Linked DNA regions of Homo sapiens: region 1 is linked to region 2. The links come from fine-mapping of genetic effects on gene expression. A gene starts in region 2. The other region holds a variant in brackets. All regions are shown on one strand. Distances are between the middles of the regions. Region 1 overlaps SKAP2 (src kinase associated phosphoprotein 2). Region 2 holds the start of HOXA9 (homeobox A9).

The links. PIP is the estimated chance that this variant, and not a neighbour inherited with it, causes the effect.
Region 1: its variant is the best candidate, but not a certain one, in a credible set for the expression of HOXA9 in whole blood (TOPMed, PIP 0.53).

Annotation. Positions count from the first base shown.
Region 1 is chr7:26,840,474-26,845,853 of GRCh38, forward strand. SKAP2 (src kinase associated phosphoprotein 2) reads right to left here. Exons shown (of 13, transcript NM_003930.5): 4 at 3,557-3,664. All of the region lies in intron 2 of LOC124901606 (a long non-coding RNA gene), which reads left to right. Among named protein-coding and RNA genes, the nearest start is that of SKAP2, 21 kb to the right of the region's middle. The variant A/G (reference allele first, on the strand shown) is at 3,067.
Region 2 is chr7:27,162,913-27,168,292 of GRCh38, forward strand. HOXA9 (homeobox A9) reads right to left here and starts at 2,625. Exons shown (of 2, transcript NM_152739.4): 1 at 1,966-2,625; 2 at 1-929. The coding sequence starts at 2,545. The coding sequence ends at 691. HOXA10-HOXA9 (HOXA10-HOXA9 readthrough) reads right to left here. Exons shown (of 3, transcript NM_001433944.1): 2 at 1,966-2,055; 3 at 1-929. The coding sequence ends at 691. RefSeq lists enhancers at 1,161-2,038, 2,039-2,915, 3,764-4,482.

The DNA.
Region 1 (5,380 bases), 320 kb before region 2:
AATTATATGGTGTCTAAAGTCTACTCTATATCTACCCACCTTAGTGCCTAAACATTTTAAAGTGTACAGAAAGGGATATTCTTTAAGGTTGTAAATCTCATTATCTCTAACTTTATCTGATTACTGACATGCACCATTTATACTGAAACTCCAATATATCCAGCCACATGATAGCATAAAACTTCTAACAGTGATCTACAATAGTCTAGAAACTATTACGATTTTTTTGTTTTCCAGAAAAAAATCAAGCATAAAGCTAATAAAATGAAACTTCTAATAAGTATACTTTCTTCTAAATAGAATATCAAAATGAAACTCTAACAGCAGTCATGCAATCATTTATAAATAAAATACAGACTCTTATTCTTTTTCCTAAAAAGGTATTTGGCATGTCATTCTCTCTTTTTTTGCTATTGGTCTCAAAATGTAGTTCTTCTCAAAAAATATAAAACATAAGAAGCATTTCCAAAGAGGGAAAAGAAAAATTTACAAAGTACAATATTTTTAAGCTACAAGCTATACAAAAATCTGTCACCATCTATGTTACAATTCTAGTAATCAATAAGGTACTTTTTTCCAATGTACAACTCAAAAATCAATTATATCAACTCTTTTGTATAGAGAAGCAGCACACCTTTCAGGCAACTAGTATTAATGAGTAGACATGACTATAGAATCTCCATCTGTTTCTCTGACAAAGCTGTGGCTACTCTAGTCTCTCATTGAAATTCCATTAATCTGGTGTACCAAGGTCCAATGCGAAAATCAAAACTGCATCTAACCCTTTATCAGCTCACAATAACCTACAAGTGAACTCTGCCTGTTAGCATGCAGCAAGTTATGATTTTGCTATCAATCAGGCAGTTGGCCAATAAAAAAAAAAAGGCAGGCTGAAAACAACGTACCTGGCAGGGTTTGGAAACTTTCTTTTTGTTGTTTTCATCCCCATTCAATTTCTATACGGTGCCTGGACCTTGTAAGATTATGCATTATTCTCCTTGGCTATGATTTAATTGCTACCAGCAATCAAGTCGAAGCATCACTGAAGTGTGCTTGAATTTCATTAGAAGATATAACTTATGCTGCTTTCCTACAGTACCTAATAAACCATAAAGAAACCAAAACACATATGGCTTGGGGGAATAACTGGAAAATTAGGTGGCCATTTGGGAACTGAGTGAACTTTTGAACCAGAGGAATAGAGAAAAATAAATATTAAAGCAAAAGACAGACTTAGAATGCACATAGAGATGTGCAGGTTTGACCTTTTCAGTACCTTGAAAATTACATTAGCATTATGAAAAATACATATCATGTTTAGAGTTTATAACCCATTGAAGTTTAGATACTTTCTTAGTGCCTTCCATAAGGTAAAAGTCAAAAGGACAAAACAACAATCTGATTTGACAAAAGGCCTTTTGGTGACCTGTGCTAATTCGGTTATGCTTATTGTTAAATGCATTATCTTTTTTATAATTAATATATTATTGGACTGAGGTCACATAATGAAGCAAATTTATTCATCAAAGGAAAGAGAACACACACAAAATCTAAGTTGAAGAGAGAAAAACTGATACATTGAGATGATATTTTAGAGTGAATATTAAATGTCCAAGTGGTAGTTTAAAAATTAATTTTAATAATGATATTCTTAGAAGAAAATGTGAAAGTATCAAAAACAGTATTATTTATATATCAAAAATGAGTAATACTACAGGTAAAAGTTTTAATCTGCTCAAGAATTGCTTAAACACTAATGAATAGGCACTATTAACAAAAAAACTTGATGTTACATATAAATGTTATTAAATAATATTTAAAATCAATAAAATAACCTTTTAACAACAATCTTTTAGTGTATTTCCTGAATATTTTGTTATAAAAATATATGATAAATTATTTACTATTAAAAAGAAAACAATAATGTAAATGCACTATAATTTAATAATAATTTACTTTTTCTAACAAGCTACTGGAAGATTTCTGGCTCTCATAGATATTTAATTGTTGAATTTCTTTTTAGGTTGCAAATTTTTCAAGAATACACATAGCACTCCCCTGTATATCAAAATGTTTATGCTATTTTAAGAAACTATGTCTATATAGTCTATGAATATATTCTCCGTATGTCTCTCTTAGTATAAATATTCTGTCTGTGTATGTGTATACACACATACATTCATATATACCAACATTTTACAGAGAAATAAAGCAATTGTAATGTGTCTGAAAAATAGTACCACTTAAATAATAATTCATTGTTTTGCCTGAAAATATTATTTCTTTGATTATAAAACATTTTCTAGTAGAAATGCTTTTGAAGATGAGGTTGGAAAGGGTAATGCTCTGTTTTGGTGAAGAGAAAAGAAATGCTTATCTCTTTAAAAGATAGAAAGTGAATATAACAGCAAAAAAAAACCCTCCCTTTAAAAATAGAAATTAAATGTTTGCCGAAGCATAAAATTCAACATAAAATAGATATGACTATTATTGCTACACTTTGTACAAAGTTCTGGATATAAAAAAAGATTGTTTTGTACTGAATCACTGGTTAGAATGTTTATCACTTATGCATGTACTTGACTTATCCCCGTTCTGCAACAGACATAATTTTATACCTCATAAAAGCAATTTATGTTTCCAAAGGGAATAATCTGGATAACATAAAATGTGGAGTGCTCTGTTGCAGGAAGCATATTTTCATTCAGCAATTGTATTTAGAGATGGAACTGCACAGTTTGATCATCACATAGTGGCAGAAGGTATTATTCATTTCTATGTCTATGTGAAACTTTGAGTGCTACAAATTAATATGCATGACTAATTTATTGATACACATTCTTAATTTATAACTATATATTACCCTTATAAGGTTTCTATAATGCAGATGTACTCAATGGCTATAACAGAGAAAGTACATACTACACTAAAAACAAGTTTCATAACTTTGGCAACATTCAATAGCTTTTAGAAATTACTAAGAGATAAATTTATTACTAATTCAGTTAATACAAACACTGCAATATTACTGCATAATATGGTCCACTTTTAAGTGACAATATAAAA[A/G]TGAAAATGCGCATTAAAAGAAGCATTTGATAAAAACCTGTCTCAGTGTGAAGAGGCAATGTCGGAAAATTAACTTAATATTTTATTAACTCATTTTGTATAAAGTTTTCAGAAAAAAATAGATCAAAAATCTTTTTTATTATTTATAAAATAAATAATACAGTAAGCCTTCAAGTAGCATAATAAAATTAAGCAAGAATCTGATAATATTAAATTAACTATCAAACTGTTACTAATAATATTCATATGATGATACAGGCACTCTCTCAAAAATTTTAGTAAAGAAAATTTCCAAGAAAAAGAACCAACTACATACTTAGGAAAACCTCACCAGAACCACTAGAGAGAGCTCTTCTGTTCCTTAAAAGGTTTTGGTAAAGGTAAGTTAACCGAAGCCTCTATGTTCATCTGCTTTCTCATAAAACTACCACCCATATATATAGCATTGTTTTGTGTGAGTGTCAGAGTTACGTGGGAAAATGTCACATACCATCAGAGGGGGCTTCATCGTCTTTATCATATCGTTCTGAGGCTAATGAAATAGTGTCTGGAGGCCCAGCAAAAGGGTCATCATATTCTTCCCCATCTTCTGCATCACCTGTTAAAAAAAAAAAAAATCAGAGAACTGCCTTTTATACTTTAGCCATTTAAAGTAATGTTACTTAATGTTAATGTTACTTTGTTAGAAGAGGTAAATTCTACTAGTAAATTGAGTCATTGTCATGGAAAAACAAAGAAAACTTTTAAAACTAGGTAAAAACAGGTCTTATTTTATTTTATAGCCATTGTAACTTAGATATAGTAAGAATTTTTGAAGGTCATTATACAATTGCTTATTTATGACACAAAAGGATATAGTCCAAAATTATGATGATCTCTACAAAGAAGAATCCAAAAAGTAGAAGCAGGGTAAAACAGAGTGTATATCCAAACGAACAAAACCAAGATAACAGTAACAACAACAACAACAAAACCCAGGAAGCACAACAGAAAACATAATACAAGTAATTCCATTTACCTATTCAATAATTTGAAAAATTATGATGAGAAACTAATAATTTGAAGCTGTATGAATATTTTGTATAAAATCATTTTATACATTTTTATACATTTTATACATTTTTAGAGAGGATTAAAAATAATCTGTTGCATTTTCCAGAGCACAAATCTTTTAAAATCTTTTATAGAAAAAACTGCTTTAAAATTTTCATAATCTTTTTAAATTCAAGTAAGGGTAATTTACAAACTAGACACTTTCAGTTTCATTCAATGGTATGTTATTACTTTTTAATGTTCTGGCCAGTTTCCAACTTGATTTTCAAATCCTAGGTTCGTTGGTCGATTTTTTGATTGACTTTTCTATTTTAGGCTAATTAATCTCCACAAGATCTTGTGGTTTCAATTTTTTCCATATAATCATTTAAAATAATTTTTTTAAAAAAACACAAATATTTGCTAGCCCAGTTACACATAAGCATTCATTTGTCACCCGGATTTCACAACAAAGAAAAAAGTATGCTTAATTCTACATTAAGTATTTGACTGTTGAATTCAAGTTACCTGACAGAAAAACAGCCACCTCAGGGATTACCCTTAAAGCACAAGGAAAATCCCCATAGGAACCGCAGAGTGCCTATAGTATTACTTTTGAACCACAGTTCCTGGCAGATTCAGATTAATGCTACTTGTCTCTCCAAAAGGGTATCTTTGTCCTCTGACACCCATTTGATGGGTGTCACCCTATTTGTTACCACATTTTTGGTAGAGAAAATAGCCTCTCTCAAGACAACACTGTCCAAATAATTTTTTAAAAATACATATTCCTATTTCCTTATAATTTTGCCACTTTGTGAGCAACTGTCATCAGAGACATCTCTCATTAAGATGATAAGGGCAGAACATAGAGATGGCTATATTGTCATCCTTAGGGATTCTACTACTAGGTACAGTAAATATGGTGATGTTACTCCCACAGTTAAAATTCTAAGGAACACATAAATACTACTCATTCTTTGGAACTTAATTTCTCTTTCTTTTCAGATGTTCAAAGTCCTTTTCAGAACACTCAATGATCCCTTACAATATTTCTCTTATGAAAAGAAGAGTGCTAGGCTGGTGGCAGTGCTCACGCCTGTAATCTCAGCTACTCAGCATGCTTGAGGCCAGAAGATCGCTTGTGGCCAGGAATTAGACACCAGGCTGGGCAACATAGCAAGACCACATCTCTAAATAAAAATAAAAACAATTAGCCGGGTGTGGTGGCCTGCACCTATAGTCACATCTGTGGGAGGCTGAGGTAAGAGGACCGCTTGAG
Region 2 (5,380 bases):
AAAATTTTTTTTTATTTCACTGGGAAATTCTTACAGCTACTTTACAATCATAGGTTAACAGCCTAGTTATACAGAAGACATATTCCACTACAGAGCTATACTCTATGCAACTGTTTTTTTCCCCTCATAAACAACCTGAGTTCAAATTGAATTCTATCTTCCACAATCACAATGGGTGCATCACCCAGTACACAGAAGTTTGAATCACAAAACATAATTACCACAATAAAACACAGTGTTCAAGTATCTTGGCAGAGCAATCTGCCGCACAAACTGCAAATTAAATTAACTACACAGACTAAAAACTATACAGCCTACCATCAACAGTTGTGCATTATAAAAAGGTAGTTTCTTTCCTTTTGTTTTAAGTCAGGAACAGGTAGATTTTTAAAAATATATATACAAGCTAACACACACAGCTATCAGCACTAATGCCCCCCCCTCAACTTTTCCTTTTTCTTATAGAAAATGGAAAGCTTACAATACCTCCTCCATCAAAGCGGCAGGCCTACGAGCCAGCCTGAACAGGGTTTGCCTTGGAAAAGATGTGGCCTGAGGTTTAGAGCCGCTTTGTGCGGGGATGGTGGAGGCTAGGGTGGGGGTGAGAGAAGGGAGAAGGCGGAAGGGGGACGGACAGTTCTTTCTTTTTCTCTCTAGCTTACCCTTTTTTCTAAATAAGCCCAAATGGCATCACTCGTCTTTTGCTCGGTCTTTGTTGATTTTCTTCATTTTCATCCTGCGGTTCTGGAACCAGATCTTGACCTGCCTCTCGGTGAGGTTGAGCAGTCGAGCCACCTCGTACCTGCGGTCCCTGGTGAGGTACATGTTGAACAGAAACTCTTTCTCCAGTTCCAGGGTCTGGTGTTTTGTATAGGGGCACCGCTTTTTCCGAGTGGAGCGCGCATGAAGCCAGTTGGCTGCTGGGTTATCTGCGGGGAAGAGAAACACTGGGTTTAGGAGCAGAAGACGCACATCCCGCTGGGGCAAATGAGCCTCCTGCATGGGGTCTCTGGCCGAAGTGCAGAACTCTGCTGAACTGGTTAGGAAAGGCAGTCAGGCCTCGGACACAATGGAACCCTGGCAGACAGACGCACAGACAGTCACTTAAAATTGCACGCAGTAAAACTTTGGCTCGCCCTCCCCTCCGAGACCTTCCTTTCTCCTACTCTGTCCTCTTGTCCCCCTTCTCCTTCCTCCCACTCTCAAAACGCTGTATAGAATGAAATTTGGAAACAGGTCTCCTTGCCACGCAGAGGGAAAGCATGCTGCCTTGTGTTCTGTAGCAAGATTAGGATTCCTCTGTCCCGTTCACTGACTTCGTCTTTCTTTCCCAACCTGTCCCTCTACGCCCCCCACTCCTTATTTAACCTTCCTGGAAGGCCTTCGGAGCTGGGCAAGCCGTCAGGGCGCCCTAAGGCCGCTGATCACGTCTGTGGCTTATTTGAATAATCTGTCATGGGGACCCTTGTGGCCCGGGTCGCCCGCAGCCTCATCTTGGCAGGATTTACGCCGCCACTGGCCGAAGGCAAGAAGTGGAAGGAATCGGCCGTCTCCCCCAGCGTCCCAGCTCCGGCTGCCCTGGCTGCCGCCGCTCACGGACAATCTAGTTGTACAAAAGGCTCTCTGGGCTGCACTGCTTTCGAAGAACGGCCCAAAGTATCTCGGTCCTGGGCCTGGGCAGCCAAGGAGAGGGGCGGCCAGTCTTGGCTCGTCCCGAAGTGCCCGCCCCGCCCCCTCTCGCTGCAGCAGCCGCCTCCTCTCCCGTAGCCCTGCGGGCCGCTCTTCACTGCTCTCCAGACTTGGGGCCCTATCTGAGGCGTCCCAAACACCAACTTCTGGCTCCTGGCCCCAACTCGAGAGGCTTCCAGCGAGGACGAAGGCAGGCTCGAGAGAAACCTGGCGGGCCAGCAGATCCGGGAGGCCGGCGTGGAGGCGGCGGCGGATTTGAAGGGAGGAGACACTTACTGGGATCGATGGGGGGCTTGTCTCCGCCGCTCTCATTCTCAGCATTGTTTTCAGAGAAGGCGCCTTCGCTGGGTTGTTTTTCTCTATCAACTGGAGGAGAACCACAAGCATAGTCAGTCAGGGACAAAGTGTGAGTGTCAAGCGTGGGACAGTCACCCCTTCTGGCCGACAGCGGTTCAGGTTTAATGCCATAAGGCCGGCTGGAGGGCAAGCCCGCGAAGGAGAGCGCACCGGGCGTGGGCTCCAGCCAGGAGCGCATGTACCTGCCGTCCGGCGCCGCCGCCGCCACGGGCGCCTGGGGGTGCACGTAGGGGTGGTGGTGATGGTGGTGGTACACCGCAGCGGGTACAGCGTTGGCGCCCGCCGCGTGCACTGGGTTCCACGAGGCGCCAAACACCGTCGCCTTGGACTGGAAGCTGCACGGGCTGAAGTCGGGGTGCTCGGCCAGCGTCGCCGCCTGCCGGGGAGGCTGGCCCAGGGTCCCCGGCGCATAGCGGCCAACGCTCAGCTCATCCGCGGCGTCGGCGCCCAGCAGGAACGAGTCCACGTAGTAGTTGCCCAGGGCCCCAGTGGTGGCCATCACCGTGCCCAGCGCCTGGCCCGCCCGGCCCGACCCACGGAAATTATGAAACTGCAGATTTCATGTAACAACTTGGTGGCACCGGGGGGGAAGTACAGTCACCTAATAAGTTGCCGGCGCCCGCGCCCCCATTGGCCGTGCGCGTCACGTGCCCGTCCAGCAGAACAATAACGCGTAAATCACTCCGCACGCTATTAATGGTCCGATGTTTTGCAGTCATAATTTTTATAGCAAAAGCCATATGTTTTTATGTAAAGGGATCGTGCCGCTCTACGATGGGGTTTGTTTTAATTGTGGCCAACGACGATTAAAAGATCAAATCTAGCCTTGTCTCTGTACTCTCCCGTCTCCCCCCCCATACACACACTTCTTAAGCGGACTATTTTATATCACAATTAATCACGCCATCAAGAAGGCGCGGGTCCCGCGTGCGAGTGCGGCCAGCGGAGCCCCTCACATAAAATTAGACAATAATTGAAGCCATAAAAAAGCAGCCAAATCGCATTGTCGCTCTACTGTATTTAAATCTATATTTATGATATTTCATAAGGAGTTATTGTTTCAGAAGCCACACAGGCTGGCGGGAAGTCGGAAACGACCAACAGATTCGTTTGCCTCGCCGTGGCTCCCAGCTGTAAAAATTTACGAGGACTTGGAAAGGTTAGACTGTTGTGTTTGGTTGGCGAGCTCCCTGTAAATAATCCCTGCGGTCCCCGGGAGAGGCGAGTTTACCCGCGGCCGCCCTCGAAAAGTCAAATTCAACGCAGGATCCGTCCCAAACGGAGCCGCCGCCGGCCCTACCAGGGCACTCCAGGCAGGGACCGGCCGCTCAGGGAGTACCGCGGGTGTAGGTCCCCACAGCTACCCGCCTGGAGCGAGGGGCGCCCGGGCAACCCTTAAATTCGCCTTTGCTACGAGGACCCCACGGAGGAGCTGGCCAGGAGGGAGCGGCCAGCCGCCACCAGGGCGAAGGTTTTGAGGGCCTGGTTGGTTGTGCGGCGCGCTCGGTCCCCGGCCCTCGACCCCACGCACACGCGCGCCCAGCCCGCCTTTCTCATCAGCTGGCAATCAGGATTCCCAGGCGCAGGCGGCTGGCGACCCAGCCCTGTGCTCCAGCCTCAGAGGCTCTAACCATGAGCGCTGCAAGCCTGGTTGCGCTCCGTGAATCCCAGCTGGGGAAAAAACTACAAGTGGCATGAATGGAAGGCAAGTTCGGTTTGGGAAAAGGCAGCCTCGCCTAAGAGACCCCGCAGCTCCGGAACCTGGGAGGCCCGCACCGATGTGGCCTGTCCCGGGGCCGCGTGAGCCTTTCAGGGCTCCTTCCTCCCTTTCCAGCTGCTACTCCGGGCCTCGCCTTGGTTACCTACGGGGCCCGGAGACTCGGCGGAGAGGTACAAGGCCCAAAGAGAGGCAGCCACAGCTCAAGGCCAGGGCTGGAAATTAGAACGGGGAGGGGTAAAAGGGCATCGACTCCAGTCCCATTCCTGGGCCTGGCCACGTTGGGGAAGTTTATTTCTCACCCGTTGGGGGTAAATTAAAAGGTCGCCGCCACTCCGTTAATTGGAAGGAAACTCCCCCTGCCCCCAATTCCTAACAGAAAGCAGCGACTCCTAGAACAGGGGTAATCAAATTCACGTGTGGATACTGTGCCTGCAACAGTGTGTTTTTCATTAGCCCACTTCCCTGGCGGCGAGGCTGGCGGCCTCGGGCGCTTCCATCTCTCTCTCTCTCTTTTGCCTTCATCCTCACCAGCAGTTCCAGTAATCCCCCCCTCAAACACCCTGACACACTTCCGGCTGGGACTCCCAAATACCAGCGAGGCTGCCAAGCCGCGCGGATACCGACTGGGTGCCCCTTCCTGCACCCGCGCCTGGAAGAGGGAAGTGGCCGACACAATGAACTCCGAAATGGCCCCGTCCTGTCCGCCTCATCTCCCTCCCCCTAATATTTTCCTTGCCCCATAAATTCCTCTAGGTCATGCCCACCCCCACCACAGTCCACCGTGTCCTAAATACCCCGCAGTCCGCCAGGCCTCTGAGATTTTCATTTAAAAAATTAACCCTGGAGGAAACCCTGGCTCCCAATTTTAAGTGTCTGCAAATGGGCTGGGCATGTCTGGATGCCTTTTCCACGTTTTATGCCTGAGAAGACACTGATTATTTCAGTATTTTTTAAGTAAAAAAGCTGTTCCTTTAAACAGCCTTAGCCCCAAAATAAGAGAGTTACTGAACAATTAGCAGGCGTTGAGTGTTAAGCAGATGTTACTGGTGCCTAGAAAGCGGAGAAAAATCAGAAAACCAAATATTGTCTTCCTTCAGCCCAAAGGTTTGGAGCCAGAATAGTCTGACTTTTTTGTCTGCTTTTATTTTCGAAGTGAAAGAGATTGCGTATGCATAAAGAAATAATAAATGAGTATAATTTAAAGCGGCCCCTTCTCGACTGAGATTTCTGAAACTGTGATCTCTGAAATAAATCCAATGCCCTGGTCCAGAAAATGGCAGGGAGGAGTTGAAGGGAATGGGGTGTGTGGTCCTTTCAGACAGCAGGTCGGTGGCTGTGCAACGAAAGAGTTCCTGGGCCTCCAGTCCAGGCAGGGAAAGGAAACAGCTTTGTGGGCACGAATCTGTAACTGTGTGTGTTGGGAGTAGGGAGAGATAGTTTGTTTTCTGTTTTCTGTAGGGAAAATGGTCAGACTGGCTCCCATCTGTAGACTACAATTTGGAACGATGACTCAAGTTTATATCAATGGCTCTGGAATTTGGGATTCTTTTTGCCCATTTAAAACATACTGGCTCTTGGAAGGGTCCCCTTCTCCAGCACCCAGCTGCACAAAGG